4 separate regions of the Homo sapiens genome follow, and regions 1, 2 and 4 are each linked to region 3. The links come from fine-mapping of genetic effects on gene expression. A gene starts in region 3. Each other region holds a variant in brackets. All regions are shown on one strand. Distances are between the middles of the regions.

Region 1 (2,687 bases), 60 kb after region 3:
CTTAGTATTAATGATTGACCAGTGAAATGGAGACAAGTTGGTAGAATTTTACACAGACTGGGCTTGATCTCTAAGAAGCATCAGAACATGTCTCAACATGGTTGACAGAGATGAGTATGTAATAGCATGTAATCTCTAGATTTAGTACTTAATGATTTTAAGAGGCAGGTACCGATAGGAAAGGGGGCCAGGAGAAGCCATGTTTACATTTTTTAATCCTCATATTCAGGACCTTCCATATAGTATAGATTTATATTTATTATGCAGCAGAACAAATAATTTAATTCAAGTCAACAAATACTTTTGAGTCCCCATAAGGCAGTATGTCATGCACTGTTGCAGGCACACAGATAAGTTAAAGACAATTCCTGTCCCCAGTGAGTTCACAGTCAATGGGGTGAAGGATGATCAAAGTAATATAATTTATTCTGCTATATACATGTTTCTTTAATGTACTTTAGTTCTGTGAGATGGATAAATATGGAAATGGTGTCAGTTTAACACAGAAGGCATATTGGTTCACATGTAATTTTTCCAGAATGGATAGGCTTTCTTATGATTAAAGGGGAAGCCTTACCAATACCTTAAGAAAAAAAGATGATAATCCTACAGAAGTGTGTTCTGCAAGAAGTATCTGGTTTTGTAGCTTCAAGAACTGTTGCACTTTCCACTGTGTTATGCTATATGGGGAAAGGGCAAGTGCAAATAAAAAGGATGCAAATATATTGCACTGTGTAAAAAAGCAAAACAAAACAAAATAACAATCAAACACTGATTGATGAAGAAAGCTGTCTCCATATGGTATTTTTAATTTTGACAAAGTAGTCTTTATGAGAAGTGAGTATTTTCAAGACCTTATAATTTGAAGAAAACATGAGCCCCAGGAATAAGGCTGCAGAGGATGGACTGGCTCTATTTCTAGGTGCAAATGCCGGTGGAGATTTAACCATGCTAGTATTTTTATTATAATTGTTACTATTTTTATTAGGGCTCTGATTTAAAAATTATATGAATGTTTTCTTTCTTTCTATAGTCATGTAGATTTTAAGTGGTCTGCTTATAACCCTATATTCTCATAACCCTTTTTTTAGTGCATGTTTTTATAGAATATGAGGTTTTTCAGGAACAAATATGTGGTGTT[A/G]TAACAGAAACATGTATGCAAAAAACAAAACAAAAAGCAAAAGCTGAAAATCAGTGCAAAAGAGGAAGGGGAGAGAAAGGGGAAGAGAAAGTATATTGGGTTGTTGAGAAATTAGGAAAGACTTCACAGAGGTGACACTTGCCAAAGGTCCTGAAGAATCAGTAAGTATTGGAACCAGTGTGAGAGACCAAAAGCAGTGGCACTATCAAAATAAATATGGAAATCAGAGGAAGAAATGGCTTGGTTTGAAAGGCTGGCAAGAGCCTTGAAGGGCACTGAATTCTGAGGACATAACTATCAACTATATGATTACTTTACAACTTACAAAATGCTTTCACGTACATTATCTCTTTTGTACCTGACAACAACCATGTCCAATGTCTAAGAGCTCTTCTGTTCACACTGACTAGGGACTATGATGATAATGGGGAACCTCCCATGTAGCTTTCAAGTACAGAGTTCTCTGAAAGAGATTTCTATTGTTGATTTTTTGGGTTACTATTTCACTACCATCATCCTTAAGGGATCAAAAAGGGAGAAACTTCTCTTCTGTAGATTTCGATCCCAAATTCGTAAGATTTTTCTTATTTTTTTCCTTTCATGGGATCTTTCCCCTAGAGCAGCCACGGAATACAGCCCATTTAGGGTATCTGTTCAAATGTTCCACTATTTTCTACTATAATATGAAGAAATTTCAGGTACAAATTATGTATGTATCTCAATCAACAGCGTAAGTTTAAAACATTAAGAAATCCTGTTGGGGGCCGGGTGCCATGGCTTACACCTGTAATCCCAACAATTTGTGAGGTCGAGGTAGGTGGATCACTTGAGGTCAGGAGTTCGAGACCAGCCTGGCCAACATGGTGAAACTCCCTCTCTACTAAAAATACAAAAAATTAGCAGGATGTAGTGGCGGGTGCCTGTAGTCTCAGCTACTCAAGAGGCTGAGGCAGGAGAATTGCTTGAACCTGGGAGGCGGAGGTTGCAGTGAGCCGAGATTACGTGCCACAGTACTCCAGCCTGGGCGACAGAGTGAAACTGTCTCAAATAAATAAATAAAAATTTTAAAAAATTTTTTTAAAAAGAAAAGAAATCCCATTTGGGATTTCTGTTGTTACTTTTCTTATAGGCACAATGTCTCATTTCCTGCCCTTGCAGTCACTCTCTTACCACCTTTTCTGGCTGATCTGTCTCTGTACTTTTAAGCAAATCTGAGAAATCCAAGTAACTATAAATTCACAAAACTGGTATGATGACAGTCAAAGACTATTTGCAGTAATCAGTCTCTGCCCTTTTCTATTTACCTTCACTTGGATCTTGACTCTTGGCTGTTTCTTATTAGAGATAGTAAGTGTTGTTGATGATGACGTGGAGAAATAAGAACCCTTACACACAACTGGTGGGAATGTAAATTAGTACAGCCATTATGGAAAATAGTATGAAGATTCCTTAAAAAATTAAAAATAGAACTACTATATGATTTAGCAATCTAACTACTTGGTATATATCCAAAGGAAATGAAATCAGTATGTTGAAGAGCTATCTG
Region 2 (2,687 bases), 25 kb after region 3:
CCTGGGAGGCGGAGCTTGCAGTGAGCCGAGATGGCACCACTGCACTCCAGCATGGGCGACAGAGTGAGGCTCTGTCTCAAAAAAACAAAACAAAACAAAAACCCAACAACAAAAGCCATGAAATTAATCCCATACCTTAGAATATATAATGCTAAATTGCTTTCTAGGAAAGTTATACTAATTTATCCTTCTACTGGCAATATTTCAGACTGCCTCACTATACGTTTATCTTAAACCTTTGTCCCCACCGAGATGGGGACCAAGTTTTATCAGTACGTAAGATGTTTATTGAAGCATTATTTATATTAAAAATGTAAGCTTGGCCAGGGGCAGTGGCTCATATCTATAATCCCACCACTTTGGGAGTCTGAGACGGGTGGATCACAAGGTCAGGAGTTCAAGACCAGTCTGGCCAAGATGGTGAAAGCCCGTCTCTACTAAAAATACAAAAATTAGCTGGGAGTGGTGGCAGGCGCCTATAATCCCAGCTACTCGGGAGGCTGAGGCAGAGAATTCCTTGAACCTGGGTGGTGGAGGTTACAGTGAGCTGAGATCACATCACTGCACTCTAGCCTGGGCAACAGAGGAGACTCCATCTCAAAAATGATTAAAAAATATAAAAAAAATAAAAAATATATCTCCTAATGCTATCCCTCCCCCCTCCCCCCAGTGTGTGATGTTCCCCTTCCTGTGTCCAAGTGTTCTCATTGTTCAATTCCCACCTATGAGTGAGAACATGTGGTGTTTGGTTTTTTGTCCTTGCGATAGTTTGCTCAGAATGATGGTTTCCAGTTTCATCCATGTCCCTACAAAGGACATGAACTCGTCATTTTTTAAATGATGAGTTAATGGGTGCAGCACACCAACATGGCACATGTATACATATGTAACAAACCTGCACATTGTGCACATGTACCCTAGAACTTAAAGTATAATAAAAATATATATATATTAAAAAATAAATAAAAAAAGTAAAAAAAATAAAAAATACATATCCAATACAGAAAAAAGAAGATTTTGAATGTTCCCAATACAAAGAAATGATAAATGTTTGATGTGCTGTTATGCTAAATATCCTGATTTGATCAGTATACATTGTATACATGTATCAAAATATTACTCTGTACCTAATAAATGTGTAAAATTATTACATGTCAATTAAAAATTTAAAAAAGCAAAAAAATAAATAAATAAAAAATAAAAGTAAACTTGCAGCTGAATATGCTGGTGAAAAAAATGTAAACAACCTAAATGTCCAATGGTAATAGTTAAATAAAGACCCATCCTTAAAAATAAAATTATATAGCCATTAAGATTGTTTTAAAGACTTTTTAGTAACATGGGAAAATGTTCTCAAATGATTAAAGAAAAAAACTCTATAGATCTTATGTTAAAAACAAAACATAAACAAAATTCTAAAACATTTAGGTTAAAAAAATATTAGAAGGGGCTGGGCACAGTGGCTTATGCCTATAATCCCAGCACTTTGGGAGGACAAGG[C/T]AGGCGGATTACTTGAGGTCAGGAGTTCAAAACCAGCCTGGCCAACATGGTGAAACCCCATCTCTACTAAAAATACAAAAAAAAAAAAAATTAGCCAGGTGTGATGCTGCAGGCTTGTAGTCCCAGCTACTTGGGAGGCTGAGGCATGAGAATTACTTAAATCCGGGAGGTAGGGGGGTTGGAGTGAGGCGGGATTGTGCCACTGCACTCCAGCCTGGGTGACAGGGCGAGACTCTGTCTCAAAAAAAAAAAAAGAAAAAAGAAAAAAAGCCAACATATTAACAGTGATTAGCTCTGAGCTGTGGTATTATGAATGATTTTTACTTTTATAATTCATTTTTTTTTTCCAAGACGGAGTCTTGGTCTCTCACCCAGGCTGGAGTGCAGTGGCGCGATCTCGGCTTACTGTAACCTCTGCCTCCCAGATTCAAGCAATTCTTCTGCCTTAGCCTCCTGAGTAGCTGGGACTACATGTGCACGCCACCACGTCTGACTGATTTTTGTATTTTTAGTAGCGATGGGGTTTCACTACGTTGGCCAGGCTGGTCTTGAACTCCAGACCTCGTGATCCACCCGCCTCGGCCTCCCAAAGTGCTGGGATTACAGGAGTAAGCCACCGTGTTCAGCCTCATTTCCTTTTAACAATGAGCATGAATTACTTGGTCAAGGGGAATGCCTACTTTCCTTTACCTGTTTGCCAGCACTATCTGTCTTTGCTACTTATGGGGAAAATAATTGAAAATGGGATCATTAATTATTCTTTAGGTTTATAGCTAATGAGGGCTTAGTTGGATCTAGTACTATGACAAAGAATATACTATGTACAGTAATTATTATTGGCTTGAAAGGGAATCTGGCAGCGAGAGAATTGTTGCTCTCATGCCATCTTCTAGCAGGATATGTCTTTCTATTTGTCAAAAGTTTTAAGAAGAACTGGAGACTAAATAAAGTTCACATAGTGTTCAAGCAATGGCAGCGCTATTGGCTAATGAATTCACCTAGCCACCCTTTTTCCCTCTACTTCTATCCTGAATCCCATGAAGACAGGTATTTTTGCCTATTACGATAACAATTCCATCTATATGGATTGGGTTCTTGACCTCTCAGCTCACACAGCTAACTTAAAGGTGTCAATTACTGCTGGCAGGGACTAGAACTCTTTAATATTGATCGACCTGTGAAGTGCT
Region 3 (2,687 bases):
TTCTCATTAAAGGGTGGCCTTTCTCTGCAGATGAGATGGGGGTAGAGAGGAGACCACTGAACTTGCCTTTGGAACAAAACGGGGGTGGAGTAAGCTAGGCGAGCCCTTGGGGAGTGACAAAGTGGGGGCTATGAGAAAACGGAGAGTTAGAGGCAAGAGGCACCCACCTCCTTCTCAGAGATGTAGAGCTGGTCCCCTTTCAGCACCACATAGCGGTTTTTCCAAATCTCCCTGAAAATCCCTTTCCCGCAGAATTTCCGGACCCAGCCGACCTTCTCGGGCGGTGCAGGCTGCTGGTTTCCATCCTGAGGTCCCTGCCCCAGGACAAGATGAGAAGCGGGCGGTTAGGAGATTCCAGCCGGCGCTTCCTCTCCGTCCGTCTCTCACGACCGCCTCGGCGGCCCAGTCTCCTCCGAAGGCTGCGGCCGGGGGGCGGGGGGCCGCCCCAGGTTCGCTCCCACTTCGGAAAGGTTTTCACTCCGAGGAACTCCCCCCGCTCCCCTCCCCCGCTCCCGAATAAACAACCGGGGCTGCAAGTGGCAGGGGCGCCGGCCGGGCGCGGAGAGGCTCCCAGGTTCCCTCCAGGCCCTGCGCCCCCGCCGCCCCGTCCTCGCCGCGCGGGGACTAACGGCGTTTCTCTGGTTTTCTCTCCCATTGTCTCCTCGCCACGGCGGAGCGCGAGGCAAACGCTCGCCCGGCGCCCGGGGGCGGGGGAGGTGCGGGTCGTGGGGAAACTCAGCCAAGTTGAAGCCCCCCGAGGCGAGTAAACAAACAAAAGCCCCCGCGGGCGCCTGGCGGGGCCGAGGCCGAGGGGACCGGGCCGCCGGGGCGGGGGCGCGGCCGGGCCGTGGGTCTCCCAGGCCGCCGCGGCGCCGACGGAGCGGGGGTCGTCAGAGCGCGGAGGCGGCGGCGGCCGCAGGGCGGGCAAGCGCACTCACCCGCTTGGCGGAATTGTTCTTCTTCATCATTCCCAGCGGGCGCGGGCGCGGGGCGGCGAGCCGAGGGGCGGCCCCGCGTCGGGGCCTCGGCGGCACCGCGGGGGCTCCTTCCCCGCGGGAGGGCGTCGGAGCTGCCCCGGCGCCGCCGCTCCTCCCTCGCGCCCTCCCGCTCCCGGACTCTCCCCTTCTTTGTAGCTCCGGTTTCACTCAAGGCCGGCCTCCCTCGCATTCGCACTCGCACACACACGCACGCCCGCTCCCCGCCCCTTGGCGCCCTCCATCCCGGCGCCCACGCGGCCCGGGTCCCCGAGCGCACCCCCGCCACCCGCCCGCCCGGCCCAGCGCGGCCGCTCCCCCGGCCCGGTGCGCTGTGGGCGGCCCAGTCCGCACCCCGCAGCTCCATCCGCGGGCCGCTGACGTTGCGAGTTCAGAATAAAGGGCGAATCGCGGAGCCGCAGCTCGGGCGCTCCCCCCGCCCCCCCGCCTTTGTTTCTGACTCACGGAGGGGGAAGAAGGCGGCTTCGAAGCGGCTGGAGACCGCTCCCCAGGGGGCAGGGACCCTCGCTCCGGCGGCGGCTCGGGCGACACGCGGAGCCCGAGAGACCCGGCCGCCGGCCGCCCCGGGGCCCAGTGGGCGGGCGCGGTGGATAATGGAGAGACGTGCGGATTCGTGAAGACTGGAGATCGCCAGCCTCTACAGCATCGCCTTACCCGACCAAAAACAAAAACGAGAGCGGGAACCGGGAGGGCGCGCCACCCACAACCCGCATCAGGAATTCACGCTCCTAGGTGCTAGGGTGGCCTGGGCAGGTCAGATGCTGGGGGAAAGTTTTATGCTCCGGAGGGGATCGACGTGTTGGGGGATGGGGTGGGACAGAAGTTGCTATTAATACACGTTTCTTCCAGCGTACAATGCCTCAGGCCTTATTGTAGCTTCAGGAGAATAATCCTAAGGATGAGGCGGATTTTATGATCTCCATCTCACAGGGAGAAAACGGAGACTCAGAATAGCTGAGGGATTTGCAGACACAGTGTCGATGCTGGCTTTTCAGACACAGTGTCAATGCTGGCAGGAATAGAACTCTGTCTCCAAACCATTATCCTTTCTACCAAGTGGCTTTCAATATAAGTTCCAGGTGAGGCTTAAACTTCCTGCCACCTGGGTATCTTTTCCCGCTATACTGATAGGTAAAAACCCCACCCTCTCTACAGCGCTGGAGCCCAGTGGAGGGAAGGGCTGAACGCCCAGAGAATGCCCTGACTAGAGAAGCCTCTGCTGATCCCTCCTACAGCAGATCTGCCTCAGAGCCTCCAGGACACATCTTAGTAACTTCATGTCTTTTTAATATATATACGTGTGATGGAAAAGGGGAGTGAGAAACCCCGCGCTTGGGTACTGGTTTCATCACCACTCTGGGCTTTGGTCAAGTCACTGAATTTCTTTAGGCCCGCGTCCCTCCACGTATTAAGTGGTGAGGGATGAACTGCCATTTTTATCAACAAGGAAAGCTAGGGGAAGATATGAGATGACCTCTGAGAGTCCTTTGAAGATATGTGTTGTCTTCCAGGGCTAATTTTGAAATCATAATAAGCTAATAAACACATTGCCTGGCATATGGCAAGCATGCAGTAACCACAAAATGAATAAAAATCCCTGGCACTGAGGAGCAGGGAAAAGGAAAAATCATTTTTCCAGAGATGTCTCAAGATAAAAGTGTTGGCTAGATTTGTGGTTTGAATAGTGGAGGC
Region 4 (2,687 bases), 38 kb before region 3:
CTGGGATTACAGGCATGAACCACTGCTCCCGGCCCGATTATTCTTATTTTTTGTTTAGTTCTTCAGTGAAATCAACTAAGTCAGTGAGAAATTTGATGAGGGGAGGAAGTTAGTGACAGTCCAAACTCCTTTTTTATTTTTTAAATATCAAGTTCTCAGTAATTTGCAAGTGTTAAAATTCATAGAACTAGCCAGGCACGGTGGCTCACACCTGTAATCCCAGCACTTTGGAAGGCTGAGGCAGGCGGATCACGAGGTCAAGAGATCATGACCATCCTGGCCAACATGGTGAAACCCCGTCTCTATTAAAAACACAAAAATTAGCCGGGTGTGGTGGCGGACGTCTGTAATCCCAGCTACTTGGGAGGCTGAGGCAGGAGAATTGCTTGAACCCGGGAGACGGAGGTTGCAGTGAGCTGAGATCGTGCCACTGCACTCCAGCCTGGGAGACAGAGTGAGACTCCGTCTGGAAAAAAAAAATCACAGAACCAAGGTTTATAAGCATAATGCACTTGTATGAAGAATAATCATTCATAGCAGATTGGAATAAACCCTCCTAAATATCTTTCTAAAAGCCAGATTTGAAACTTATTTTGATATTTGATAAGAATTTTCATATTAGGCTGACAATCAATACAGGTTCCTGGTTGGCTGGCATTATTAATGCTGAGCCTTAACGCTTTGCTAGAGCCCCTCTCCTTTTTTTTTTTTTGAGACAGAGTCTTGCTCTGTTGCCCAGGCTGGAGTGCAGTGGGGCAATCTTGGCTCACTGCAGCCTCCCTGCCCCCTAGGCTCAAGGGATTCTCATGCCTTAGCCTCCAGAATAGCTGGGACTACAAGCACCTGCCACTGAACCCGGCTAATTTTGTATTTTTAGTAGAGATGGGGTTTTGCCATGTTGCCAAGGCTGGTCTTGAACTCCTGCCCACCTCAGCCTCCCAAAGTGCCGGGATTACAGGCACGAGCCACCACATCTGGCCAGAGCCCTTTTTTTGAGTACAAATGCTCAGACCTCCCTTCTTCCTTTTCCCTACCACATTCTCTGCATTTGGCTAGAAGGGCAAGCTTTGTTTGTGATGCACTTTGAAAGGAAGTGAAGAGGTCTAAGAGGTAAAGCTGGAACAGAAAGCTAAAGGTGTAAAAAATGTCCCAATGGCCAGGACTTTGCGGGTACGTGGAGGCGGGGAGCTGAAAATCTTAATTCTCTACCTCCTTGTTTTTCATGCAGAAATGAAGTTCTTTATCTCATTCAATGGAATTAGCCCAGAGAAGCCCTTTTCCCTTACAATTTTCAGGTCTAATGTGAATGTTTTGGACAACCTTTAGACTAATACAGTGGATCTCAAGCAGGGGTGATTTTGTTCCCCTGGGGACATTTAGCTGTGTCTGGAGATATTTTTGGTTGTCACACCGGGATGTGTGTGGGAGTGCTACTGCATCAAGTGGGAAGATGCCAGGGGTGCTGCCAAAACGTCCCACAGTGCACAAGACAGCCCCGCAACAAAGGGTGATCAGAATGCCAGTAGTGTGAAGGTGAAAAATCTTGGGTTAATAGGATATTATTTAGTTTTTGACAGATTTTCCATGCTTTGAGGTCAGTTAAAAGGGTAGTGTGTAAAATTTTTATTATAAAAGTATAAACACTAGAGGGCAGTACCTGCCCGATAATTGCAACGGATGTGACTTTGGG[C/G]GGGGTCTCTGAAGGAAAAAAAAAAGAAGCTAGTGATTTAGGTAACTGGAAGATAAGTGACTATAGGAGACCCTTAAAGAGGTATTTAAGTAATTTTAAATCAAAAGACAGTTTTGCTTGGTGTGGTGGTGTGCCTGTAGTCCCAGCTCTGCTTGAGCCCAGGAGATGGAGACCTGTCTGGGCAGCATAGCAAGACCCCATTTTTTTTTTTTTAAAGAGTTTTAACAACTACTGCTTCTGAGGTCAGGAAAAGCAGAACAAGCAGTTTTTTCTTCTGCTTTTCTATAATGATGGCTTGTGAGCTTTTGCCAGAGAAGGGAAAATTCACACTAGGTTTTCACACACACAAACACTAACGTCATTGCCACTTACACTTCTATTTGCTCTGATGAGGCAGATGATGGAAAGTCGCTATTCCTAGGGCATGTAGATCATTGTAATGCTGTGAGAGATGTGTCTGGAACAGGGGAACTTGGAGCAGACAGGCAAAACATCACGACTGAGTCCGTTAGACAAGTCAGAATCTGACTCAGCTCTTTTTTTTTTTTTTTTTTTTCCCGAGATGAAAAAAACCTCCAGCCCAGGCTGGAGTTCAGTGGTGCAATCTCTGCTTGGCTCACTGCAACTTCCACCTACCGGGTTCAAGCGATTCTTGTGCCTCAGCCTCCCCAGTAGCTGGGACTACAGGCACGCGCCACCATGCCCAGCTAATTTTTGTATTTTTTTGTTGTAGACATGGGGTTTCACCACATTGGCCAGGCTGGTCTCCAACTCCTGACCTCAGGTGATCCGCCTGCCTCGGCCTCTCAAAGTGCTGGGATTACAGGCATGAGCCACCGTGTACAGCCTGACTCAGCTCTTTTGAAACGGATCAATAATATCTAGTTTGTTGCTTGAAGCTATTTACATTAGCTAGCTATGCAAGAATGTAGTACAATTTTCTGTTTTCTCCTAAGGTTCAGTCCAATTTTAAAAAATGAAACAAATAGGCTGGGCG

The links. PIP is the estimated chance that this variant, and not a neighbour inherited with it, causes the effect.
Region 1: its variant is fine-mapped to the expression of PLEKHO1 in whole blood (TOPMed, PIP above 0.99).
Region 2: its variant is fine-mapped to the expression of PLEKHO1 in whole blood (TOPMed, PIP above 0.99).
Region 4: its variant is fine-mapped to the expression of PLEKHO1 in whole blood (TOPMed, PIP 0.99).

What each region holds. Positions count from the first base shown.
Region 1 is chr1:150,088,878-150,091,564 of GRCh38, reverse strand. All of the region lies in intron 10 of VPS45 (vacuolar protein sorting 45 homolog), which reads right to left. Among named protein-coding and RNA genes, the nearest start is that of VPS45, 22 kb to the right of the region's middle. The variant A/G (reference allele first, on the strand shown) is at 1,142.
Region 2 is chr1:150,123,620-150,126,306 of GRCh38, reverse strand. All of the region lies in intron 14 of VPS45 (vacuolar protein sorting 45 homolog), which reads right to left. Among named protein-coding and RNA genes, the nearest start is that of PLEKHO1, 25 kb to the left of the region's middle. The variant C/T (reference allele first, on the strand shown) is at 1,501.
Region 3 is chr1:150,148,539-150,151,225 of GRCh38, reverse strand. It overlaps PLEKHO1 (pleckstrin homology domain containing O1), which reads right to left and starts at 1,310. Exons shown (of 6, transcript NM_016274.6): 1 at 939-1,310; 2 at 168-314. The coding sequence starts at 968. RefSeq lists silencers at 1,003-1,082, 1,223-1,682 and an enhancer at 870-1,370.
Region 4 is chr1:150,186,448-150,189,134 of GRCh38, reverse strand. No RefSeq gene overlaps it. Among named protein-coding and RNA genes, the nearest start is that of LINC02988, 27 kb to the right of the region's middle. RefSeq lists a cis regulatory region at 2,031-2,317. The variant C/G (reference allele first, on the strand shown) is at 1,691.